2 separate regions of the Homo sapiens genome follow, and region 2 is linked to region 1. A link means that fine-mapping ties the variant in region 1 to the expression of a gene that starts in the linked region. Tissue or cell type: sun-exposed skin. Region 1 holds a variant in brackets; the other region holds the start of a gene. All regions are shown on one strand. Distances are between the middles of the regions.

Region 1 (8,000 bases):
TGAAAGTGATTTTCAGACATGTAGAAATCCAGGAAGTTCACCACCCTGAAACCTCTCTGAAAGAATTTTTTCAGCAAAAGAAATAATGAATCCAAGAAGGAAAAAGATGTGGGAATCACAAAACAGTGGTGATAAATAAATTAGCAATACTTGGATTTTAGTCTGAATACTTGTTGATTCACAATGTTGAAAAAAATGTTAAGAATAATATGGAACTGTTAAAAAATTATTCAGTGATACTTGCAAAGCAAGAGACTTTATTCAGGACCATTGTGATAGGTATAGGGACCACTGCAATGGGATCTTGTAGCAGGAAAGAGAGATTGGGCTCAACTCTGAACACAGCATGGGCAAGCAGGAATGTATAGCCAAGGGGCAGGATGGGAGTCAGTGGGTGGAAAATTATTAAGAGGAAACATCAGAGGTAAGGGGGATTTTGGTTAAACTGACCTAACAGGATTCTTGCTGAAGACAGGCCAAAGTGATCAGACAACACCTGGGGGGTTGGGGGGAATGAAAACCTGATCAGATATCTAGAGTCATCAGATATCAAGAATGGGGGGTTCTTGCTAAACTGACTTAGCAGGGTTCTTTGCTCAAACTAGATTTCACTAGAAAGTGCAAAGGTGGGCCTACCAGAAGATTCAGAAGCCAAGCAAAGAATCATTGTCAGAACTAAAAATGATCTCAATGTGGGACATATATGGCAAGAATGAGAGAGACAGGTAAAGAGGAAGGATTCTGAGAGTCTTGTCGTATTTAGGACATAGTGATTAAGCCTATACTTTGCTTTTTAAAAAAACTTAAAATGTGACTATGACTTTATATATTTCGTTATGCTTGAATAATTTACAAATAAATTCTATTCATGTGGGTTTTTTCGTTGGTGGTGGTTTGTTTGTTTGTTTGTTTGTTTGTTTGTTTTTTGAGACAGGGTCTTTCTCTCTTGCCTAGGCTGGAGTGCCATGGTGTTATCACAGCTTACTGCATTCTTGAACTCCCAGGCTCAAGGGATCCTCCTGCCTCAGCCTCTGGAATAGCTAGGACTACAGGCACACACCACCATGCCCAGCTAACTTAAAAAAATTTTTTTTTGTAGAGCCAAGGTCTCTCTATGTTGCCCAGGTTGGTCTCAAACTCGTGAGCTCCAGCGATCCTCCCACCTCAGCCTCCCAAAGCGCTGGGATTACAGCCTGAACCACCATGCCTGGTCTCATGTGTTGCTTGAGTAATTTCTCAAATTATTTTAAAAAAGACCAATATCCCTGATGAACATGGATGCAAAAATCCTCAATAAAATACTGGCAAACCGAATCCAGCAGCACATCAAAAAGCTTATCCACCATGATCAAGTGGGCTTCATCCCTGGGATGCAAGGCTGGTTCAACGTACACAAATCAATAAACATAATCCAGCATATAAACAGAACCAAAGACAAAAACCACATGATTATCTCAACAGATGCAGATAAGGCCTTTGACAAAATTCAACAACCCTTCATGATAAAAACTCTCAATAAATTAGGTATTGATGGGATGTATCTCAAAATAATAAGAGCTATTTATGACAAACCCACAGCCAATATCATACTGAATAGACAAAAACTGGAAGCATTCCCTTTGAAAACTGGCACAAGACAGGGATGCCCTCTCTCACCACTCCTATTCAACATAGTGTTGGAAGTTCTGGCCAGGGCAATCGGGCAGGAGAAGGAAATAAAGGGCATTCAATTAGGAAAAGAGGAAGTCAAATTGTCCCTGTTTGCAGATGACATGATTGTATATCTAGAAAACCCCATCGTCTCAGCCCAAAATCTCCTTAAGCTGATAAGCAACTTCAGCAAAGTCTCAGGATACAAAATCAATGTGCAAAAATCACAAGCATTCTTATACACCAATAACAGACAAACAGAGAGCCAAATCATGAGTGAACTCCCATTCACAATTGCTTCAAAGAGAATAAAATACCTAGGAATCCAACTTACAAGGGATGTGAAGGACCTCTTCGAGGAGAACTACAAACCACTGCTCAAGGAAATAAAAGAAGATATAAACAAATGGAAGAACATTCCATGCTCATGGGTAGGAAGAATCAATATCGTGAAAATGGCCATACTGCCCAAGGTAATTTATAGATTCAGTGCCATCCCCATCAAGCTACCTATGACTTTCTTCATAGAATTGGAAAAAACTACTTTAAAGTTCATATGGCACCAAAAAAGAGCCCTGGCAAAAAATTGCCAAGTCAATCCTAAGCCAAAAGAACAAAGCTAGAGGCATCACGCTACCTGACTTCAAACTATACTACAAGGCTACAGTAACCAAAACAGCATGTACTGGCACCAAAACAGAGATATAGACCAATGGAACAGAACAGAGCCCTCAGAAATAATGCCGCATATCTACAACTATCTGATCTTTGACAAACCTGACAAAAACAAGAAATGGGGAAACGATTCCCTATTTAATAAATGGCACTGGGAAAACTGGCTAGCCATATGTAGAAAGCTGAAAATGGATCCCTTCCTTACACCTTATACAAAAATTAATTCAAGATGGATTAAAGACTTAAATGTTAGACCTAAAACCATAAAAACCCTAGAAGAAAACCTAGGCAATACCATTCAGAGCATAGGTATGGGCAAGGACTTCATGTCTAAAACACCAAAAGCAATGGCAACAGAAGCCAAAATTGACAAATGGGATCTAATTGAACTAAAGAGCTTCTGCACAGCAAAAGAAACTACCATCAGAGTGAACAGGCAACCTACAGAATGGGAGAAAATTTTTGCAATCTACTCATCTGACAAAGGGCTAATATCCAGAATCTACAATGAACTCAAACAAATTTACAAGAAAAAAACAAACAACCCCATCAAAAAGTGGGCAAAGGATATGAACAGACACTTCTCAAAAGAAGACATTTATGCAGCCAAAAGATACATGAAAAAATGCTCATCATCACTGGCCATCAGAGAAATGCAAATCAAAACCACAATGAGATACCATCTCACACCAGTTAGAATGGCGATCATTAAAAAGTCAGGAAACAACAGGTGCTGGAGAGGATGTGGAGAAATAGGAACACTTTTACACTGTTGGTGGGACTGTAAACTAGTTCAACCATTGTGGAAGTCAGTGTGGCGATTCCTCAGGGATCTAGAACTAGAAATACCATCTGACCCAGCAATCCCATTACTGGGTATATACCCAAAGGATTATAAATCATGCTGCTATAAAGACACATGCACACGTATGTTTATTGCGGCACTATTCACAATAGCAAAGACTTGGAACCAAGCCAAATGTCCAACAATGATAGACGGGATTAAGAAAATGTGGCACATACACACCATGGAATACTATGCAGCCATAAAAAACGATGAATTCATGTCCTTTGTAGGGACATGGATGAAGCTGGAAACCATCATTCTCAGCAAACTATCGCAAGGACAAAAAAACAAACACCGCATGTTCTCACTTAGAGGTGGGAATTGAACAATGAGAACACACGGACACAGGAAGGGGAACATCACACACTGGGGCCTGTCATGGGGTGGAGGGAGGGGGGAGGGATAGCATTAGGAGATATCCCTAATGTTAAATGACGAGTTAATGGGTGCAGCACACCAACATGGCACATGTATACATATGTAACTAACCTGCACATTATGCACATGTACCCTAAAACTTAATGTATAATAAAAAAAAGAATGACATTGGCTAGCAAATTTAAATATATATTGTTTAATCATTTTTAAAAAATTATTTTAAATAATTAACCATGCGGCGCTACACAGGAAAATTTTACACAAACTATAGTGTTCATGGGAGTAGCTAAAGAAGCACTGTTAATAGTAGACACACTCCTATCTCTTGGGTAGAATCAAAACTATTTGAAATGAATAAATTAAAAAACCACCAGGCACATTTTCTTTAAGTATTGGGGCTTACATCTGATAAACAGAAAAGTACCAATTACTCCCTTCAATTAAGTACAACTGAGTCCAGTCAACGCCTTTCTCTTCTTGTCCACTGGAAGTATTAAAACTCTGAGAGGCACTTAGGCTTCCAAATTCCCTTCCTAGGGCTCAGAAGGAAAGATTTGCTAACTTTTTCACAGGATGACATGTAATTTCCTCCCACAGAAACTTACCTTGATAAACAATGAGGTCATTCTCTCTGAGGTATTATAATACCTTGACACACCGTGAATCATTCTGATGGCATTAATCAAATTTTGTATTCCATGTGCCATGGAAACCTAACATTGAAACAAATTAAGTGAATTCCATCATATGCATATAGTTTTAATAACCAATATTCTATAATACTCAAAACTCTAAAGGTACACAAAATAGTATAGCATTTTTAGCTTAAAGTCAAATTTTACTAAATCCAATGCAGTATTCTAGACTAGACCCTGGAACAGATAACAGGACATTAGTTTTGACAAACAAACTAAGGTAATACAGGATGTTAACAGGAGAAACTGGGTAAAGAGAATTCTGTGCTATCATTGCAACTTTTCTGTAAATCTGAACTTAAAAGTTTATCTAAAATTAAATTTTAGAGGTGAGAGCCATTTTAAGGTTAATAGTTCATTCTGCTCTTTTTAAAGGTGAAGAAACTGATACCTTGAGGGGTAAAGTGACTTTCTTAAGGTCATAAGCCCAGCTAAAATAGAAATCAGACTAGCATTCATTTTCTTTTATGCAACTCAGTTCGTGTTTTAGCAATCCTACCAAGTGCCATTAGGCTCTGAAGATATTGGAAGAAATCCAAACCTATTCATGAGTAGCTCACAACAGAGCAGAAGAGATAAACACAAACAAGTAAAACAAGTAGAA[A/C]AAGGTAGAGCAAAGCAGAACAAGTACAACAAGGATATAAAACAATCCTGAACATAAACTGACTGCTTACTATATTCCAGGCACTAGGCTAAGAGCGTTAGCATATTATTCTAAGATATGCTGACAACAACCCTTGAAGGTAGGTTTGATTACATCAGATATAAAACATCACGGATTGTAAGATTGCACCATTATTTTCTGTGCTATTAAGAAAGAAAAAAGACACCCAAGATGAGGAATCTAACTCCTACATAATACTAGGCCACCAGTGGGTCCTCCCTGTTAAGGTAAACATGAAATAAACCAACCATGGAGAAAAAGAGAGAAACAAAATGTACATGCTACCAGGAGGAGGAAAGAAATCAAACTTCTTTGAGAATGTATGCACAGGTACTCAACTGCAGTCTGAATTCATACGAATGGCACCAAAATCAAAAACAAAACAAAACAAAAAAAACACCCTCAAGGAGAGAACTAATAATTTAAGGTAGTATCAAGTCACATCCACAATGATTCACAAAACCTAACTGACTAAAGTATGTCCTGAGTTCAGGGATATTAAAATGTGAAAAAAAGTCTTAGAATCTATAAAATAAAGTATTATCATTATTCCCATTTTGCAAATGAGAAAACAGAGAGGTAGAGAAGTTAAGTCCCTTGCCTAAGATCCAACAGCTGTAAGTTACATAGTGGAGATTTTGAGACCCTGCTTCTAACCGTGATGCAAATCACTACAGGAGAACAGACAAAGCCAATGGCATCCCTCCCTTCAAGGAACTTTCCTTTTAATTGATAAGACAAGATAAAATATATAAAATGTGTTTTTAATGGTGATGGAAGAAATACAGCCAAGAAAAACAACTACCGATTACTGTACGGTATGTCCTAGGTGTGGGGTATAACTATGGAATAATTAAATCAGTTTTATGTGGCTTATGGAAATTAACACCATTACTTTATAGTTAACCTTCTAGGCCAGAATTCATATTATATATGGTATCTGTAGATCAAAAAGATCCTAATAAAAATATGCCTAGAAAGAGTCCCTTCCACCCTTCCTAAGTCATGTCTACAAAGTACCACTAAACTCCAATAAAGAGGGCTCAGGGATGGCATCAAATGGGTCCTTCAGGAAAACGTCCTTCATCTGAACTTTAAACATCATTATTTACAATAGTAGCTCCTTGAGTGCACTGTTCTTGTCCATCTATATACAGTGCTCAGATATCTCATATGTCAAACATATAATAGTAAGATATGCCTAAAGCACAATACCAGGGTGATTAAAAAAATGAAACATACATAAAACTTATGAACCAGAAATGGAAGCATGAATCCCCTGCACTTTTCCTACCCAAATGACAGTTATAAACTAAACAGCAATTGCTGGTTACTTTTAATCAGAATAAAGAAAATGAGGGGGAAAAAGGAATTGTTGAAAGTACAGATATAGTGGGTGTATGAGTGGGAAGCAATTATATGACTCAATGCTATTAGTACTTCTGTCATTTCAAAAGGTGATGCTTGAAACCTTCCTACATCAGAGAATATAAAAAGCTCAACAACAACAAAATAACAATAATAAGGCACATCCATGGTTAGAGTAATTGAACAAAGCTTTTTAAAATTACTAGGATGAAAAAAACATCAGAACTAAATGATTTTTAAATTATATGAATTAAAACAAGTCTTTTGAATCAAGAAGTTGAAATCAGTATACCTTAAAATTTGGAGTCTTGATAGCAATGAAGAGTATTCTTTCTTTCAAGTTTACTTTTTATAATAAAAAGCTTTAAATATATAGAAAAGTACAGAGAAAAATATAATGACCACCTACTCCCATCATTAGATTTGACAAACGTGAACGTTGTGCCATATTCACTTCATCTATTATTTTTTCACATCAAGAGCTACTTGCGGTAGCCCTGGAGTAGGCTTTAGGTATTATGTGTATTTCATATTTGCATCTTCAAATCTTGTGAGCAATCTGAAATGCTTGTGACATGTAATAATTTTAATTTTTCTTGGACAGAAATTTTAATTGCTCACATTGTAAAGTTGGGGAATTAAGTCATTGAGCTGCCAAGTAAGCCAAGCAAAGGCCTTACTTCTCCAACACCATATACAATTTGATTTTCTTTACTTGGGGTCACGTGCACAGAAATACCTAAGAAATAGTATAAATGTTCTTATATTAAACAAATTTTACAAAGGTTCACAACACAAGTCCAGCTACTAGTAGCAGGGGTAAAAATGAGAAGAATGAAGTTTAAGAAAGTCATAATTCTTGGTGGGGAGGAAGGGAGAGAGGTGTGAGCTGAAAAACTTCCTATTGTGTACTGTACTCACTACCTGGGTGACAGCATCCATACCCCAAACCTCAGCATCATGTCATATACCCATGTAACAAACCTGCACATGTACCCCCGAATCTAAAATAAAGCTGTAATTTTTCAAAAAGTCATCTCTTTGCAAATAATACTAATAAGTTTTAAATAAAATCGACAATCTCTTTATGGACTCAATTAAAAGACTCTGCTTCTAAAGTCTTCCTGTCCCCTCTCATGGTGCTCCCTGATGGATAATGGATTCCTCATGGCAGTAAGAAATGCACTTGTCCAAGACTCTCAACTGACATTTTTCCCTCCCCTTTCATATTAAACTTCTTGACTACTAACACTCTCTTGGAAAGATTATAAACTGCCTTTACACCTCCTTCTTCTCCAAGTCTAAGTGATATAGGCCATAACCTCTTTCCTTCTCCCTGCCTCTGGGATGAAACCTACATTGACCCAAGAAGGTTGGTCAACAAAACCATGTGGCCAGTGCTGCCACCTATATGGAAGATTTGACTACTTCTTAAAAAATTAGAGTGAAGAATACTGACACAGATATCAGACACAAATTAAATTAATTTGAAAGTGTTGGGCCCGATGGCTCACGCCTGTAATCCCAGCACTTTGGGAGGTGGAGGCGGGCAGATCACTTGAGGTCGGGAGTTTGAGAGCAGCCTGGCCAATGTGGCGAAACCTTGTCTCTACTAAAAATACAAAAATTAGCCGGGCATGGTGGCATGCACCTGTAATCCCAGCTACTCAGGAGGCTGAATCAGGAGAATTGCTTGAACCCGGGAGGCGGAGGTTGCAGTGAG
Region 2 (8,000 bases), 52 kb after region 1:
AGTCTCACTCTGTCACCCAGGCTGGAGTGCAGTGGCGTGATCTCAGCTCACTGCAACCTCTGCCTCCCGGGTTCAAGTGATTCTCCTGCCTCAGCCTCCTAAGTAGTTGGGATTACAGGCACATGCCACCACACCTGGTTAATTTTTGTATTTTTAGTACAGACGGGGTTTCACCATGTTGGTCAGGCTGGTCTCAAACTCCCGACCTCGTGATCCTCCTGCCTCAGCCTCCCAAACTGCTGGGATTACAGGCGTGAGCCCCCACTCCCGGACTCTCTCTCTTTCTTTCTTTCTTTCTTTCTTTCTTTCTTTCTTTCTTTCTTTCTTTCTTTCCTTCTTTCTTTCTTTCTTCCTTTCTTTCTTTCTCTCTCTCTTTCTTCCTTCCTTCCTTCCCTCCCTCCCTCCTTCCTTCCTTCCTCTTTCTTTCTTTCCTCCCTTCCTTTCCTTTCTTTCCTCCCTTCCTTTCCTTTCTTTCCTCCCTTCCTTTCCTTTCTTTCCTTTTTTTGAGACAGGGTCTCATTCTGTCGCCCAAGTAACGTGATCTCACCTCACTGCAACCTCCACCTCCCAGGTTCAAGTGATTCTCCTACCTTAGCCTCCTAAGTAGCTGGGATTACAGGCATGTGCCACCACACCTGGCTAATTTTTGTACTTTTAGTAGAGGTGGGGTTTCACTACGTAGGGCAGACTTGGAGCAATTTTTCATATGAATATATGCTATTTCTATTCTCTCTTTTGTAAATTGCCTATTCTTCTTTTTGGCCATTTTTTTCTATCGAGTTATGTGTCTCTTTCTCATTGATTTCTAACAGTTTTTACATATTCTGGATACTGAACCTTTGTTGGCTATGTGTGTTGCCCATACTTTCTCCTGGTCTATGGTTTAACTTTTTACCTTTTAGGGTGTGTTTTAGCTTTCTTTTATACTTCGTGCTTTTATATCTCATTAAGAAACTTCTTTCTTTCTTTCTTTCTTTTTTTTTGGAGATGGAGTCTTGCTCTGTCACCCAGGCTGGAGTGCAGTGGCACGATCTCGGCTCACTGCAACCCCTGCCTCCCAGGTTCAAACAATTCTCCTGCCTCAGCCTCCCGAGTAGCTGGGACTACAAGCACACGCCACCACGCCTGGCTAATTTTTTGAATTTTAGCAGAGACGAGGTTTCACTGTGTTGCCCAGGCTGGTCTCAAACTCCTGAACTCAGGCAATCCACCTGTCTCAGCCTTCCAAAGTGCTAGTGAGCCACCGCGCCCAGCCTTCATTAAGAAATTTCTACCATGAATTCACAAAGGCATTTTCTAATATTTTATTCTTCAAGGTTTTAAGTTTTGCCTTTTCACATTTATGTCTATAATCCTCTTGGACTTACGTTTTCCTTTATGGTATGAAATAGAGATCTTTTTTTATCACATACATAATCAATTGTCCTTACCCCATTCATTGAAAAAATAATCTTTTCCCCACTAGCAGTAAGATAACACATACCAAATTTATATATATATACACACACACAGAGACACAAACATGGTATGTGTGTATATTGGTTGCCTATTAATGCACAACAACTTATTCCAAAACTTAGCAGCTGAAAACAATAAACATTTATTATCTCACAGTTTCTGTGGTTTAAGAATCTGGGAATGGTCCAGCTAGGTAGTTCTGGATCAGGGTCTCTCACAAGACAGTGACTAAGAGGTTGGCCAAAGCAGCAGTCATTTTGAAGCTCTACTGAAAAAGGACCCACTTGCAATTTTACTGTGTAGCTGATGGCAGGTGTCTGGCCTTCACTGGCTGTTGACCAGAGACATTGGTTCCTTGCCACATGCATCTCTCCTTAGAGTTGCTCACAACGTGACAACTTGCTTACCCTCCAAGTGAGAGATCAAAGAAAGTGACAGAGCTCCCAAGATAAGAATCACAACATTTCATTCTCTAATCTCAGAAATGACATGAAGTGACACTTTATCATGTCTATCATGCTCTTTGTATCAGAAGTGAGCCACCAAATCCAGCCCATACTCAAGGTTAGGGAAGCAGACAAGACTGTGAAGACCCGGAGGTGGGGATCATTGGGGTTATCTTAGAGTGGTCTACTACAGTTTCCATTTGTTGATCTATGCCAGCCTCCCTACCATACTGTCTTTTTTTTTTTTTTCATCCTGTCTTAATTACTGTAGCTTGTACAAAGTCTTGTTATCCGGTAGAGAATGTTCCCCTACTTAATTATTATTCAGTATATCTTTCCTATTTGGGGCCCTAAAAATAGAATGTAGAATCTGCTTGTTCATTTTAATTGAAAACCCCTGGGCCAGGCACAGTGGTTCATACCTGTAATCACACTTTGGGGAGGCCAAAGTGCGAGGATCACTTGAGCTCAGGAGTTCAAGACCAGCCTGGGCAACATAGTGAGATGCTGTCTCTACAAAAACTAAAATAAAATAAATTATCTGGTTTTGGTGGTGCATGCCTATAGTCTTAGCTATTTGTGAGGCTGAGGTGGGTGGGTGGGTGGATTGCTGGAGCCTGAGAGGTTGAGGCTGCAGTGAGCTGAGACAGCACCACTGCACTCCACACTGGGCAACAGAGTGAGACCCTATCTTGAAAGAAAGAAAGAAGAAAGAAAAGAAAGAAAGAAGAAAGAAAGAAAGAAATAAAGAAAGAAACAAATAAAGAAAGAAGAAAGAAAGAAAGAAAGAAAGAAAGAAAGAAAGAAAGAAAGAAAGAAAGAAAGAAAGAAAGGACTCTGTTGGGATTTTTATTGGAATTTCATTACATGAACAGATTAATTAGTAAATGAATTGATATTTTATGATATTGAGTCTTCCTATTCATTTACATGCTTTATATCTCACATAGTCTGAGAAGCTCACCAGAAAGATTAGTGCAAAAGGGCTGGGAACAGTGGCTCATGCCTGTAATCCCAGCACTTTGGGAGGCCGAGGTGGGCGGATCACCTGAGGTCAGGAGTTTGAGACCAGCCTGGCCAACATGGTGAAACCGTGTCTCTACTAAAAATACAAAAATTAGCCAGCATGGTGGCAGGTGCCTGTAATCCCAGCTACTTGGGAGGCTCAGGCAGGAGAATCGCTTGAACCCAGGAGGTGGAGGTTGCAGTGAGCCAAGATCACACCACTGCATTCCAGCCTGGGCGACAGAGGAAGACTCCATCTAAAAAAGAAAATTAATGCAAAAGAAGACAATTTGGGGGTCTTTTCAATAATTCAGTGGTAACACACAGTATATGGAGAGTTTGTGTATTGCTCCAATTCCCGAGTTTAAAAGGTTTAAGGTCTAGTTCCATATAGAAGTCCTGCAGTTCTAATAGACTGTGTTTTGATGAAATATCCTCAGTAAGTTAGTATGAGGTATGCACAACATTTCTGCTGAAATCCTTATCCTGCCTATCATTTTGCAGTGGACATCCATGGTTCAGTTTGCCTGGCAATCCTCCCTTCTCATAAGAACATCATCGCTCTTCTTTTAGGGAACTAACAGATCCTCCCCAAACTCCAATCAGGTGGTCCTAATCCAGGTTGCCAATCGCAGTGCTTCAATCACAGGAGTAAGCACAGGTCCTAGGCCAGGCCAATCACAGCTCCTTCTTGGATTTTCCAATTTGATAAAATCCAGGCTGGCTGGATAAAATCCAGAGGGAGAGTTTACTCCCACTCCTAGTGAGAGAACAGCTGCCAAATTTCTAGTCTTATGGAGCTGGTGTCTGACAAACTGAAGCTGCGATGCAGAAAAAAGCTGAGATGAGAGACGGGGACATCTTGGTGGTGGCCAGGTGGCTAGTGCCATATACATCCCTGCCCAACCTCATTTTGGTTAGGTGAGCACCAGTCATTCCCATTTATTCTTTTAACAACAGGAAGTATTTAATGAGCATCTACTATTATGAGCCAATCATTGAAGACACAGTGATGACTAAGCCTTCCAGTGAACACAAAATATATATTAATGTAAAAAGTACTGCAAGTTATGGACATTTGGAACCTAAGTAGGCAAACCATGACTTAAATCTCATTTAGGCTGGGCACAGTGGCTACACCTGTAATCCCAGCACTTTGGGAGGCTGAGGCGGGAGGGTCACTTCAGCCCAGGAGTTGAGACCAGCCTGGGCAACATGGTGAAACCCCCATCTCAAAAAAATACAAAAATTAACTGGTCTTGGTTTTGCAGCCTGTAGTCTCAGCTAATCGGGAGGCTGAGGCCAGAGGACAGCTAGAGCCCCGGAAGTCGAGGCAGCAGTGACTGCAGTAAGCTGAGAGCACACCACTGCACTCCAGCCTGGGCGACAGAGCGAGACACTGTTAAAAAAATTAAAAAAAAAAAAAAAAGAAAGAAAGAAAGAAAAGAAAAAAGAAAAAGGAAAAGAAAACTTATTTAATTCTCAACAAATCCTGTTAGGAAGCTCAGAGAGGGTCAGTAATTATTGCAAGTTTCTAGCGCTAATATATAGCGGAACCAAGACTTGAACATAGGTTTTCGACTCAACAATTGTTTTAATTACTCTGCGCTGCGTAAACTGAGAAACCTCTGAATCCTTACAATTTTAAAAGAACAACTTACAGTTTTCAGTTTCCATCAGATTCCAATTTTCTACCAAATTGCAGCCCTGAGGTATGAATGGTTACCAAACTTTAGTTAAACAAACAAAATTAGCTCATTAAGTAACAGAGAAACCACTCTGCCCAGCCTGCATTTTTTTTTTTTTTTTTGTATGAGTTTGCCTCCTTTATGCGCAAGGCTCCTTGGGAGTTGTAGTCTGAGGCATAGTCCTGTGGGTGGAGGCGCTGACTCACTGGGACCCAATCAGCAGAGAGTCAACTTGCTCTCCGCGCAGCGATTGGCTGGAAGTCAGCGGTCTCCCGCCCGCGGCGCCATCGCGCCATTCCTAGTTAAGGCGGCACAGGGCCGAGGCGTAGTGTGGGTGACTCCTCCGTTCCTTGGGTCCCGTCGTCTGTGATACTGCAGCGCAGCCATGGCAGAACCGCAGCCCCCGTCCGGCGGCCTCACGGACGAGGCCGCCCTCAGTTGCTGCTCCGACGCGGACCCCAGTACCAAGGTGGGCACAGGACCGAAGGGAACGGCTCCCCCAGCTCCGCTGGGCCGGGACCGGGCCGCATTCTATCCAACCCCATCCCGCCGCCGCTGCAGGTCCGCCGGCCTCGGGCGGACGGGAGTGTGATGGGAAGAGGGATAATGGTGTTTGATGGGGCGATCGTGGGGCCCGCGAAGTGTGGAGGGGATCTGTTGCCTCAGCTAGTTTCAAAGACTGCGACCCTGTTTTGAATTGGCTTGTTTATGTTGCGACGGTGGCTGGAAGCCAGGCCAACCCAGGGTCAGCTTTCCCAAATCAGTCGCCAAGGCCCACGAGAACAGTAGTTTCAGAACTCCCAGAAATAGGTTCAAAGATGCCTGTCCTGTACCAGTCCTGCCCAGCCTCGTTTTTCCTTACCACCCTGACTGCAGTCTTAACTCCTGCAAACTAATTTGATCGCTCTAAGTTTAACCGCGCCCAGAATTTCACTTTTGCTTGCTTGGCCTTTGCTGTGGGTCACAACAGCCCTTCTTGCCTTCCTCATCTTCGTGGGGCCCAGGAGAGATTACAGAATCATAGAGTTTGGATCTGAAAGGAATCTTAGAAATTCCTTCTCTTACCCTCTCGTTTTACAGTAATGACCCAGTAAGAGAAATGACCTGTTGCATACAAAGGCTTTCACTTACCGAACATGTCTTTACTGGGTAAGAATCAGTGTAACTCACTCAGGTGTGGTGTTTCGGTTGCCTTGTTAAGATCAGACACAGTTGGCGGGCGCGGTGGCTCACGCCTGTAATCCCAGCACTTTGGGAGGCCAAGGCGGGCGGATCACGAGGTCAAGAGGTAGAGACCATCCTAACACGGTGAAACCCCGTCTCTACTAAAAATACAAAAAAATGAGCTGGGCGTGGTGGCGGGTGCCTGTAGTCCCAGCTACTCGGGAGGCTGAGGCAGGAGAATGGCATGAACCCGGGAGGCGGAGCTTGCAGTGAGCTGAGATCGTGCCACTGCACTCCAGCCTGGGCGACAGAGTGAGACTCTGTCTAAAAAAAAAAAAAAAAAAAAATTCAGGCACAGTAACCGCTGTTTATTCCAGTGAAGTCATCAGTGTCTGTAAACACCTTTGTATTTATTTATTTGACTACATCATTTGTAAATTCCTTGAAGATTGAATATGTGCTTCGTGCAGACCTTTAAAAGGGGTAGATAAGTGGTCCATGACTCTGGTCCCTGCTTGTTCTTTACCTTCAGGGCAAAGAGTCAGACACATCTCATTGCTAAAACTTTTGACTAGCACCTGGTACTTGGCTTAGGAAAAATGTTAGTCATTGCAAAATTAAGGGGGAAGGTAAAAAAATTCCGTCATGCCCATCTCACTTGTATATCCCTTAATATTAATACCTGGTTTTTTCATATAATGTAAATTGAGTCACTCAGTGTAAAGTATTTTCCCAGATAACTAGGGGTTTTATGTAATGGGGTTTTCAAATAAAAAGGATTCCAGGGATATCTTTATAAAATATACTAAGTAAATGTCCTTGCAGCTTAATTTACATTCCACAGTATCTAAATTTCTCTTGATGATTCGGAGTAATTAATTTTGAGATCAGTAATTTTTGGCCATGGGAGACATAAAATGGAATACATAATAATAGCTGGTATATATTGAGTGTGCCAGGCCCTGGCTTGGTATTTTAAGTACATTGTTTAATTTAATCCTAACAACAACCCTATGAAGAAGGCATAATTATGATCTTCATTTTACAAATAAGGACACTCAGGCACATAGAGGTGTTGAGTGATTTGCCCAGGGAGGACCCCACACTTCCAACCTCCACCCTGTTCTGCTTCTGGGGTGCTGACTCCAGCAGTAATTTTGGAATTTGCCATAAAGGAAAATAAAAAACCTCAATGAAGGCTGGGTGCAGTGGCTCATGCCTGTAATCCCAGCACTTTGGGAGAGCGAGGTGGGCAGATCACCTGAGGTTAGCAGTTCGAGACCAGCCTGGCCAACATGGCAAAACTCTGCTCTACTAAAAATACAAAAATTAGCTGGGCATGGTGGCGGGCACCTGTAATCCCAGCTACTTGGGAGGCTGAGGCAGGAAAATCACTTGAACCCATGAGGTGGAGGTTGCAGGGAGCCGAGATCATGCCACTGCATTCCAGCTTGGGTGACAGAGTGAGACTTTGTCCAAAAAAAAAAAAAAACCCTCAATGAATTAAATTCAGTTTGATCACTTGATACATTTATGCTATATGTAAAGAAGATGGTAAGTACTTTGGGGATACTGGGATAAACAAGATGAGGTTCCCTCCCTTCACCAACTTATATCAACTCTAATATACAATGGACCTGGGGTTAGTGTGCTATTGAAATATAAATCACCCTGAGAGCACCCTGGGAGGTAGAGGTTTTTAAAGGTAGCATTAGTGGAATGGGGTATGCACAGGGTATTTGGAGCCTGAAGACCTGCATTTGAATCCCCACTTCTGTTGTTGGCTGCAGTGACCTTGCCAGGGCACTTGGGCTCAGTTTGTAGAAGGAGCATAAAGATATCTCAGAGAGCTGCTATGAGGATAAAATGACATGTATTATGTTCTCTAAACTATGAAGAGTGATACAATTCAAGGTTGTATTTCAGCTGTGGGGATCAGGGCACACATCAAAAAGATGGTGGTGATGGGCCTATGCCTTGATAGATTGGGTAGGATTCCAGCAGAGTACATGGGAAGGCATTCTGATGAAGGAAACATCTTAGCAAAAATGTGTTTTGATACGGGGGGAACCCACCCCAATATTTCAACGTAGGTTCTTTCTATTTTCCATAAGTATTGGCCAGCTGAGAAATAAAGAGTACAAAGAGAGGAATTTTACAGCTGGGCTGCCGGGGGGTGACATCACATATCAGTAGGACTGTGATGCCCACCTGAGTCTTAGACCAGCAAGTTTTTATT

Evidence for each region. PIP is the estimated chance that this variant, and not a neighbour inherited with it, causes the effect.
Region 2: it holds the start of GLO1, and the variant in region 1 is fine-mapped to the expression of GLO1 in sun-exposed skin (GTEx, PIP above 0.99). The same link has a PIP of 0.9 or more in esophagus mucosa, minor salivary gland and unexposed skin.

Annotation. Positions count from the first base shown.
Region 1 is chr6:38,752,235-38,760,234 of GRCh38, reverse strand. It overlaps DNAH8 (dynein axonemal heavy chain 8), which reads right to left. Exons shown (of 93, transcript NM_001206927.2): 10 at 4,156-4,263. Among named protein-coding and RNA genes, the nearest start is that of DNAH8, 41 kb to the right of the region's middle. RefSeq lists an enhancer at 3,422-4,621. The variant A/C (reference allele first, on the strand shown) is at 4,850.
Region 2 is chr6:38,700,037-38,708,036 of GRCh38, reverse strand. GLO1 (glyoxalase I) reads left to right here and starts at 4,892. Exons shown (of 6, transcript NM_006708.3): 1 at 4,892-5,066. The coding sequence starts at 4,983. RefSeq lists enhancers at 4,616-4,775, 4,956-5,055, 5,076-5,125, 5,158-5,750.